2 separate regions of the Homo sapiens genome follow, and region 2 is linked to region 1. Evidence: fine-mapped expression QTL. A gene starts in region 1. The other region holds a variant in brackets. All regions are shown on one strand. Distances are between the middles of the regions. Region 1 holds the start of PDCD6IP (programmed cell death 6 interacting protein). Region 2 overlaps PDCD6IP (programmed cell death 6 interacting protein).

What was found. PIP is the estimated chance that this variant, and not a neighbour inherited with it, causes the effect.
Region 2: its variant is fine-mapped to the expression of PDCD6IP in whole blood (INTERVAL, PIP 0.95).

The regions. Positions count from the first base shown.
Region 1 is chr3:33,795,802-33,801,341 of GRCh38, reverse strand. It overlaps PDCD6IP (programmed cell death 6 interacting protein), which reads right to left and starts at 2,712. Exons shown (of 18, transcript NM_013374.6): 1 at 2,405-2,712. The coding sequence starts at 2,613. It overlaps PDCD6IP-DT (PDCD6IP divergent transcript), which reads left to right and starts at 2,823. Exons shown (of 2, transcript NR_183731.1): 1 at 2,823-2,947; 2 at 3,320-5,540. RefSeq lists enhancers at 2,016-2,549, 2,496-2,845.
Region 2 is chr3:33,824,163-33,829,162 of GRCh38, reverse strand. PDCD6IP (programmed cell death 6 interacting protein) reads right to left here. Exons shown (of 18, transcript NM_013374.6): 5 at 3,823-3,976; 6 at 2,583-2,683; 7 at 194-310. Among named protein-coding and RNA genes, the nearest start is that of PDCD6IP, 28 kb to the right of the region's middle. The variant A/C (reference allele first, on the strand shown) is at 2,548.

The DNA of each region.
Region 1 (5,540 bases):
TAAACTCTGTTTTTCAAAGTTCATTAGTTTAAAAAGTTCATTAAGTTAAAAAATTAATGTTAAGTTTACACAATTATCCAAACATAATTATTAAAAATAAGATATTCTGCCGGATTTGAATGAACATCACACAACTGATTCACATCTAATTTTACAGCGTATATACCTACAAAACTTTTGTACCTACCTCCATTATAAACTTTAGTAATATCTCCAAGCTTACCCTAACCCCTCTAGAAGCCCAAAAAGTGAAAATACTTAATATTTGTTGAATTAATGTGGCAGGAGGGGATTATACAGAGGTGACTAAAGAAACATGGTTAGTTTCAAAGAGACTATATCTACAACAGGTCCACTACCTAGGAACAGTTCACACATTTAAGTCTGGTAAAAAGAATAAAGGAAGGAACAAATGAATTAAGTTTTAAAGTTGACAGGAGAACCGTATCCAAACCATTATCCACCAACCTCCCATGTCTGTTAGCTTAAAACCCATGCACCAAGTGCTTCTGAAGACCCCAAATCTGAGGGCTGGAACCAAATTTGATATATTCAACAAGATTTTTATCACAGGGCTCATTATACCACAACTATGTTTTCTTAATATTACTAATGGAAAATCCTCACTGAATGCTATTCATGCCTACATAAAAATTACCTTGAAATTGTTTAATTATGTTAATTCTAAAGAATGGCTAAGTATTTCTAGGTTAACTTTAAAAAAAATGCTTATGCTATTAGACTAATGATCCTTGCAGCCCAACAGTTGTAGCTCTAAAATTTGACACCAAGGGGTCTTAATTCCTCTGAGCAATCTATTCAGTACCCCTTCCTTCGGAGAACCAACCCTTCCCCAGTCCGGACTCATCTTGCTTTGATCCATGGGGTAAGGAGAAATTAAACCGGCTGGATGACTCAGATAAGGGCAATTAACTTAGCCCATTTCCCACCATCATAAATGGGTGCAAACAAACCCAGGAGCCTCCCATGGACTTCCACCAGAGCTAAGGAGAAAAGCACTCCCTTCTGTAAGATACTGAGTGTTGCGGACGATTGTTATTACACTACAGCCATCCCTCTCAATACATGAACAAAGCTTTCGAGGGAAGCATCACGGAGGCAAGACGATCTCCAGTGATACCTAAAGCTAAGGAAGGAATATCCCTAGACTTTTCAGTTAGCAGAATAAGTCTTACTTTTTTTTTTTTTTTTTTTTTTTTTTGAGATGGAGTCTCACTCTGTCGCCCAGGCTGGAGTGCAGTGGCGCGATCTCGGCTCACTGCAAGCTCCGTCTCCCAGGTTCACACCATTCTCCTGCCTCAGCCTCCCGAGTAGCTGGGACTACAGGCACCCGCCACCACGCCCGGCTAATTTGTTGTATTTTTAGTAGAGATGGGGTTTCACCGTGCTAGCCAGGATGGTGTCGATCTCCTGACCTCGTGATCCGCCCGCCTCGGCCTCCCAAAGTGCTGGGATTACAGGCGTGAGCCACCGCGCCCGGCAGAATAAGTCTTTTCTTAGCTCAAGCTAGTTTAGCCTGGGTTTCTGCTACTTGGATTGGAATACAATTGTGATTCTCCTGTGAAACAAGTAGAATATACTATACGGAGAAAACGAGATTAACAAGGTATGCAAAAGAAATGTTTAACTATAAAATCGTAAAAAATGTTCTTATAACTATTAAGTATCATGAAAGGAACCCTCATTAAATCAGCATGAGCTAAATAAGCGTTTGCTAAAATAACAAATTTACTCTACTGTGTATATATCTGTTTGTGAACAAACTGCTTTTAAACAACCTACCTTGAACGGTTCAACTATGTAACTAGAGTTTTATTTCAAATAGTTGTAGCTCCTAACTTTCAGAATTCTCCATCTATCATTTGATTATTTTGAACTGAGGAAGACGGTCCATTTCATGTGGACAATGTGATGAGCTGATCAGACATTTGGTCCAGTGTCCCAATTCCCCCACTTCCCCCACTGCCTTCAAGCAACTACTATTATGAAATCAAAATGTGGCCCAAGAAAGACAGTGATGGAAAAATGGGGCGAAAGGGGAAGCTTCAGTTAGAGACCCAAAAAAGTGAAGACTAGTTCTAAGTAAATGTGGCAAAAGAGATCAGTACAGGGCAGACTGCTGCTCCCAGGTATCTGATCCACGGAGCCCTCGCCGACCAAGGGCTAGAGCAGACGTGCAGGCAGGACAAGCGGGCAGTCACAGCGGGCCTGCAGGGCGGGTCCTGCTCACCAGCAAAGAATGCAGACCACACCTACGCGCCTGGTCAGGCCGGGACGGGGCGGCTCCGCCCAGGTTACAGGATTGAAGGAAGGGGGGAGACGGGAAGAGGAGCGGCGAGCGACGGCTGGCAGACAACCTACCCACTCCCAGCCCCGCGCCCACCTCAGGAGCGTCTCGAGCGCGCCCTCGTGCTTGTCCAGCGGACGACCGACTGCGGCGCGGCGCAGCTTGCTGAGCTCCTCCGCCGCGCGGCAGTACTGGGCCTGCTCTTCCCCGCCGCTTGGGTAAGTCTGCTGGATGAACTTCACCAGCGGCTTGGCCAGGTCCACCTCTGAGGTCTTTTTCAGCTGCACCGAGATGAATGTCGCCATGATCAGCGCCTCCGCCGCCGTTCGGGCCAAACAGACCGCGGACAGCTTACGAGGGCCGAGGAGAGAGAGGTACTGGGCTGGCGGACTGGCGGACTGACTGGCTGACAGACTTGCGCTCCGCCTGCGTTCCGGGTCCGGCAACTTCCGGGAGCTCCAGCGCAGGCGCACTGGATGCGGGGTCCTTAAGCTGTCCGCGGTCACGTGAAGGTGTCGCGGCGGCTACGCCCACCTGGACCCAGTTTACCCTGTACTGTGCTGCAAAATATTACTTTCTCCCCATCTGGAATTCTTCCCTTCCTCCTTCCTGCCGCAGTGGTGTACTGAGCACTTTCACGTAAGAGTATTCCTCCACTCGAACAACCCCCCGGAGAAGTACTGGTGTCACTGCCACCTGCGAGAGTTTGCGGCTACCTCCCCAAGAGGCAGTCCCAGGGTTATTGTGACCTATGATGTTTATTCAACTACTGTTGACGGGCTGCTGTGCACAGGGAACCTAGTAGGCAAGACCCCTGCCATCGTGCAGCTTACTGTCAGGTTGACACAGACCTTAAGGTAAACGGAAAAAGTATCAGGAAAAAAACAGGGTGCTTGGGACTTAGGAGATGTTAAGATCGCTTGGAGGACCCTAATTTAAATAAGATAAAGTAGGTTTTCTCCGAGTAGGTTAACTGAAAATGAACCTGTGTCTCTGGTTGCTGTTTTGTAGAAAGAACAAAATTTTAAATAAATTAAAAACGACACCTGTAATTTGAGAAGATGCTTGATATCAGAAGAGGAGAAGAGTGGAGAGGGGTGGAGTGGCAAAGGAGAGCCTCCAAACCAAAAGCCTGCGGCAGAGGCCCTAGGAGGCAAGCACTTAACCATGTTTCAGGACTAGAAACGAAACATGTGACAAGACCTTTAAAAACAAATAGAATGGGATGGAATAAAGTTGGATGAGTAAGCAGGCATCAAATCATTCAGAAACTTGTTGTCCAAGTTGAAGAATTTGTTTAGTATTGTATAATAAATGCAGAGGAAGCTATATACACTTATAATTTACATTTTTTAAAGGCCACGTTGTAGCTCAATCGGATAGTTTGTCTTTTGATGGGATGTAGTATACAGTATCATCATGGTATATTCCAGGCAAAAATATTTAACTTGAATCTGTCAAGCCTTTGCATCTAACACAGTTTATAAAAAATACAACAGATAGATGAACAAACTAAATGATGCCAGAGGAAGTAACTAGACAGATCCAGAAGGTGAAACATTCTGCAGGATAACTGGCCCATCTCTTCAACAATTTGTCATGATAAAAGCAACTGCTTTATGAAAAGAAATTTAAGGGACATAACAGTTTGAATTGGATCCTGGTTTGAACAGACTGTCTATAAAATGCATTTTCAGGACCATTAAAGAAATATGAATGTAGATGGACTGAGTATTGGATAAAATAGAACTGTATTGCCATGGAAAAGATCATTAACTGAAAAGAGCAAGTCACGAAATAGTATGTTACAGCATCTCATTTTGGTTTAAAAATGCACATATATGTATTTATGTACAACTAAAAAAATAGTGGGCTTATACCCTAAGGTGTTAGTATTGGTAATCTTTGGAAGTGGAAATGTGTATTTTTTTCTTTGTGTTTGCCTATCTTTTTCATTGTAACTTTTGCAGCACATAGACTACTTTCATTATAGTAAAAGTTTATTTTACCACAATTTTTTTTTTTTTAGAAAGAGTCTCACTCTGTCACCCAGGCTGGAGTGCAGTGGCACAATCTCAGCCCACTGCAACCTCCACCTCCCAGGTTCAAGCTATTCTCCTGCCTCAGCCTTCTGAGTAGCTGGGACTACAGGTGCACACCACATGCCTGGCTAATTTTTGTATTTTTAATAGAGACTGGATTTCGCGATGTTGGCCCGGCTGGTCTCGAACTCCTGGCCTCAAGTGATCCACCCGCTTTAGCCTCCCAAAGTGCTGGGATTACAGGCGTGAGCCACTGCACCCGGCCTATTTTACCACAATTTATAAAAATTTTTGTTTATTTTAATTAAGCTATTCTATGTTAAAATAAGTAGCCACCCTTGGCTGATGCATAAAGAAAAAATTAGAGGAAGGAAAGAATGGAGGCAAGGAGGCAAATCATGAGACCATTTCAGAAATCAAGACGAAATCAGGAAAGCTAACATTAGCAAGAGTGAACCAAACTGATAATATCTTTGAGTTTAAAACTGAAGAATTTACCAATGAACTGCATAGGAAAGTAAAGAAAAGAGAGTGGTCAAGATAGGTCCTGGTTTTGGGGCCTGAACATCTGAGTGGTTAGTAGAATCATTACCAGTTGATAACCCATGGAAGAGGGTGGGGGATGGGTGGTGTCTTGTAGGTTGGTTGACAGGACTGACCCATTGGGAAGATAACGAAGAAGCAAAGTATATGAAAAGAGGAGAAAGGGTAACCAGAGGAGGGAGGATACAAAGGGAGTGATTAGCCATCAGAAAGATGAGGGACATGACATTTGTTGAGGCAGATGGCGGAGAAAAGAAAGTTAACATAGATGTGGTTAGTTTTGTGGCATTGACCAAAGGAAGATTAAGGTGATACTATCTGATGGCTTGGAATGAAAACCAAACTCCCTGCCACAACATGATGATCTTTCTCTGCAACTTCATATTTTGCCTCTTGTTCCTCATTTGTTACCACTGAGTCACAATGGTCTTTTTAGTTTCTCAAACACACCAAGATCTTTCTTGCCTCATGTGACCTAGAATGTTTTCTCCCTTTCTTCATATCTCAGTTGAAAGGTCTCCTCTCCTCATCATCATACTATCTAAAGTAGATTCCCTCCCTTGTTAACCTCTAGCGCAGCCATTAGTTCCTTCATAACACTTACCCTAACTTGCAAGTATTTTGTTTGTTGATATAATTTTTATCTG
Region 2 (5,000 bases), 28 kb before region 1:
CATCTATTTTTTAGATAAAATATGAGACCTCAAAAAAACATGCAGTAAAGTCTAAAGATAAAAACAATCACTTGTCCCTGCTGATAGGGGTGATGAACGGGAAAGGTTTTTATGGGCAAACTTGGAAATCTCACTAGGAAAAAAAAGAGAGATCCAAGTTAGTTACTTAAATATTTATTACCAAGAGACTCACCTGTAACCTTGCAATTTCTTCTCCAAATTTCTTCTGCTGTTTTGCCAGGATAGACTGATGGTACTCAGCATTGGCCTGCATGATACAGTGCTTTGCAGCCAAGACAGGGAACACCTCCTGGAAATAAAAATACTGACCAGGGGAGAGTCCAACCACACAAACCACCACAGACAACATGGGATGCAGGAAGAAAAAGGAAAAGAAGACAGAAATTAGAATCACCCCATTAATGGTTTAGAGATTAAGGTTAGTCATTAGGTGTAAACAGAGAAGACGACATGATTTTGTGTGGATTGAAATCTATGAATTAAATTTTTTTTCTTCCAATTGAAGGGGTTTTTTTTAACTGTTAACTGAAGCCAATTTAGGTTTTTACAATTCTCTTTAATTGATCCATGAAGTCAACATTTTGTTTACAAAAAGAAAAGCATGCATTATTAGAAAGAGAAGTAGAATGGACATTCACAGAGGAACACAAAGCACAGAGCTTTAGAAGCTTTCTTATGAGCCCTTACCCAGCCTGTAGAGTTAACTAAACCATCATTACTCACATATACTAATGAAATTGCTCTATAGATTACTGTTTCATCATGTTTTAAAAAAAAGACAGTAAATTTTCACTTAAATTCATATCCTAAGAGAGTTCTTACTGAAGATGATTTTAGCCATATAAAAATGATTTAGTATCATAGATACACTAATATTTCAGTGTCATATACTCAAAAACATATCATAGACAAATGCACTAAGTATATGACCAATGATAATGATAAAGTGTTATTTTGCCTATTTGTTTTGAAAATAATTCCAGTCAAAATTAATTTCAAAAGATCCAAAGACATAAAGCAGGAAAGCAATTATACTAGTGGTGGCTCTTCCAAAACGTCAAAATCTAACCTGTAACCTCACTGCTTTTAGGAAGTATATGATATTAAAAAAATCCAAGGAATTAGGCTAGACAATCACTATCTAAACAAAAAATGTAAGAGAATCAAAAACTGAATTACTACCTTGTGTGCTTTCCTGTCTCCCAGGGAATAATTTCCTACCTTCCTGGATCACTACTTGCAGACTTTTCAGTTTTATAACTAGAATATGAAAATACCTTATGAGCTTTATTAGTAAAAAGGAAAAAATAAAAGACATCTAAATTTCAAACTACACTCATGCCAGTTCTCAAGGTAAGGCTGGAGCAACTTGGTTCTGAAACAGGAGATTTTCAAGGAATACCAGGAATGCTGCAGAGGTAGCTTCCAAGTCTTTGTAGGTGACTTTCTTCTCTCCATGACAGGACTGAACTAATGGCCCAACAGGATGTAACGGAACACTGTGCAGCTGAACATGAGGTCTTTCAGATGAAAAAAACATGAGAGGAGATCCCAAGTCTCTTTTTAAGAGGAAGGCTGTTAATACCCAAGAATCCTGGGCAAATTTCTACTAGGCTCTTGGTGTATCTTAAATCCCCAGGAATCGTCACATTAATTCCTTATTGATCATTTTCTGAGTAATAAGTACTGTTAATGCACTTATGTGCATTTTTACTTCACCCCCAAGTTGTCTGCAATTTTTTAATGTACAAAGATTCCTGAATATGACTTACAAATCAATAAATTCCCCTACCAAAAAAAATCATGTAACAGATACCATATGATGAAACTAATTCCTTGAACATTTCTGAAGGAAGTAGTTGAAACATATATTTCACTCAATCTTTAAGTTTTCTTTATTAATCATTCCAAATTTACTAGTGATTTGCTTTGTCATTAACAAATGATCATCACTGAATAGTCTTTACAATTGTCACTTCAGAAAGGTTTACATTAAAACATTATACTTCCTGTGATATGTGGTTTAAGATGGTTGCTTTCCTTAGCTGTCCATTAGCAGCCCAATTTTTTATCCCTGTTGGCAAAACTGAATTCTAATCAAAGTATCAGATGAATTTGTTAAGTTTTCTTTTCCTTTTTTCTTTATGTCTGTTTTTGCGCTTTAAGGCTCATCTTTAAGAAAACAGGACAATAATTAAAAGTGTGAATCATCAACATGCTCAAGTATACATGCTTGTACCAAATCACCAATGATTCAGAACTACACAATGCCTTGATTTGATAAAAGTATTGAAAACAGATGGTCAACATTTTCCAGAAAGAGTTCTAGCTTGGAAAAACAAGTTTAGTAAAAGGTAAAGACAAAGGCATCCCCTAAACATAAAAGAATTGTTCATGCATCTTAAATTAAAAAAAAAAAAAAACTATTTCTACTATATACTTCAGATAACTCTATTAAAACTTCAAATTTCTTTATAAGTTTCAACTTGCTTCTTATACACAAAAAAGTCTAAATATTTCACATGC[A/C]AAGTAAGCAAGTGTTTATAAAAACAATAACTGACCTTGGGGAGAGTATCTTTGTATTGACACTGTTTGAAAGCATCACCAAAATAATCTGCAGCCTGATTAGCCAATTTAGCTATGATGGCATCTTTCATTTTATCTGGAATACAATATGACCATTATAATTAAAATAAATATGAGCTAATCTGACATGTCTCAGTATAAACACTGAGGTCACAAGTTTGTACACGCATCTGAAAACATCTTTCTTGATGAAATCACATTTTCTGCACAAAATTTAGAACAGACAAAATAGATTAGTGGTTGCCAGCAGTGGGGGAAAGGGGAGTGAGGAGTGACTGCTAATGGGTACATGGCTTCTTTCTGGGATGATGGTAATGTTCTAAAATAAGATAGTGGTAATCAAAACTCTATGAATATACTAAAAATCTTATGTTGTATACTTAGAAAGGGTGAACTTGAGTGTATATAAATTCTATCTCAATATAAGCTGTTATTTTAAAAGAAAAAAGTATTCCAATTCCTATTTCTTCCACATGATGACTTATCTCTTATTTTCAGTTTCAGCCCATATTACATATTCAGCCCATTTTCAATCTCTCATGCTAACTTATATGCCTTATAAGAATTATTCTTATTCCCTCATTCCCAGGGCTAGGGACTGTGCCTGGATGACTCCTTCTTGTCATTTAGGTCTACTTTAAAGAGGACCTCCTGAAAGAAAGCCTTCTTGACTAATGAATCTAAAATTAGCCCAGCTTCCCCTATATCCCTATCCCATAACCATACCACCAGCCACTATCATATAATTCTCTTATTTTTTATAGCAATTATTTCTGAAATCTTATAGCAATTATTTATGAAATTATCCTGTCTACTTAATTCTTGCTTATCATCTCTCCCGTCGCCAAAACCTAAGTTGTTTTCTAACTCCGTTTATCTAGAAACTAGAACAGTGACTGGCACAGAGTAAGTATCCAATAAATATTTGCGAATAAATGTCTGACATGTTAAAAACATACATAAATACTATTCCAGAATGGAGTGTTTAAAGACAATTACTAAAGATCTATTTCATGACTTCAAACACAGCCTACATTCTTAAATGTAAATTTGTGCCACAAATTCAGAAAAGGATAGCTGAAAATTTTCCATAATTCATGTATCAAGTTCAAGAAGGACAGCTCGACATTGAACATATTATATTCTAATCACTTTCTTAATTTAAAAGCCTTATCACTTTTTTTCACATGCAACAAAAAGATAAATTGGAGTTACCTCTTGTGGCTTTTAAAAAAAATACTTCTTGAGCCTGTGCCAGCATAATAAGACTGAGGGTCCCAACAGTATCTGGAGATATGTCCACGGTCGGCTCTCGACTTAAGGCAGATAAAACCGTCTCTTTAATATGTAAAAAGGCACCACTAGCAAACTAAAGGGGGGAAAAAGAATTTCTTTATAGGAACTCAGCAAGACTTAATTTCCTACTGTTACATATAAAAGTCATTTCAAATGTTAACTCAGTGAACAGTTAATATATTTAAATTTTTATATTATGCAAAACCAATCTAAAACATCTGACCTACAGACAATAAGGTTATCTTTCTAAAACTCTATAGCGTAACAAGAGATTTAACAAAGATTAAAAGTAAATTACAAGGAAAAACAAAGTAAACTAATGGAACAATCTGATTAAACTATTTTTAGATATACTTCCTCAAAATTAACATGAGAATAGAGGCGGGGATAAACATTAAAATATTTTTAGTACTGCAATGCTCTTGCTTTGGTCCCAAACAAATTCATCTTTCAAATAATTAAACATGCCGTAGTTAGGGGACACCCCAGGTAGTACATACACCTAGTCCTCTGAGGAACAGCATTACTACCCATTGCCAGTGATTTCTGTCTGGCCTTCAGAGCTCACTAGTGAAATGTTCCCCATCAGATTTTTCATCTCAATTATATTTTGTTAATACTAAAATAACTTTGCTTTCATGAAACAAATTATACTAAGAAAAAGAAATAAATCAGTCTGGGATTAAAAGGTGTCATGAGTTGGCCGGGTGCGGTGGCTCACGCCTGTTAATCCCGGCACTTTGGGAGGCTGAGGTGGGCAGATTACCTGAGGTCAGGAGTTCAAGACCAGCCTGGCCAACATGATGAAACCCCGTCTCTACTAAAAATACAAAAATTAGCTGGGCATGATGGCACACACTTGTAATCCCAGCTGCTCGGGAGGCTGAGGCAGGAGAATCACTTGAACCCAGGAGGCGGAGGTTGCAGTGAGCCAAGATCACGCCATTGTACTCCTGCCTGGGCAACAGAGCGAGACTCCATCTCAAAAAAGAAAAAAAAAAAAAGGTGTCATGAGTTAGATAAATAGACAACACAGAGAAAACTCAAAGTCAAATGTATTAAAATGAACAGCATGTTTCTGCAGTCAGTAAGTATTA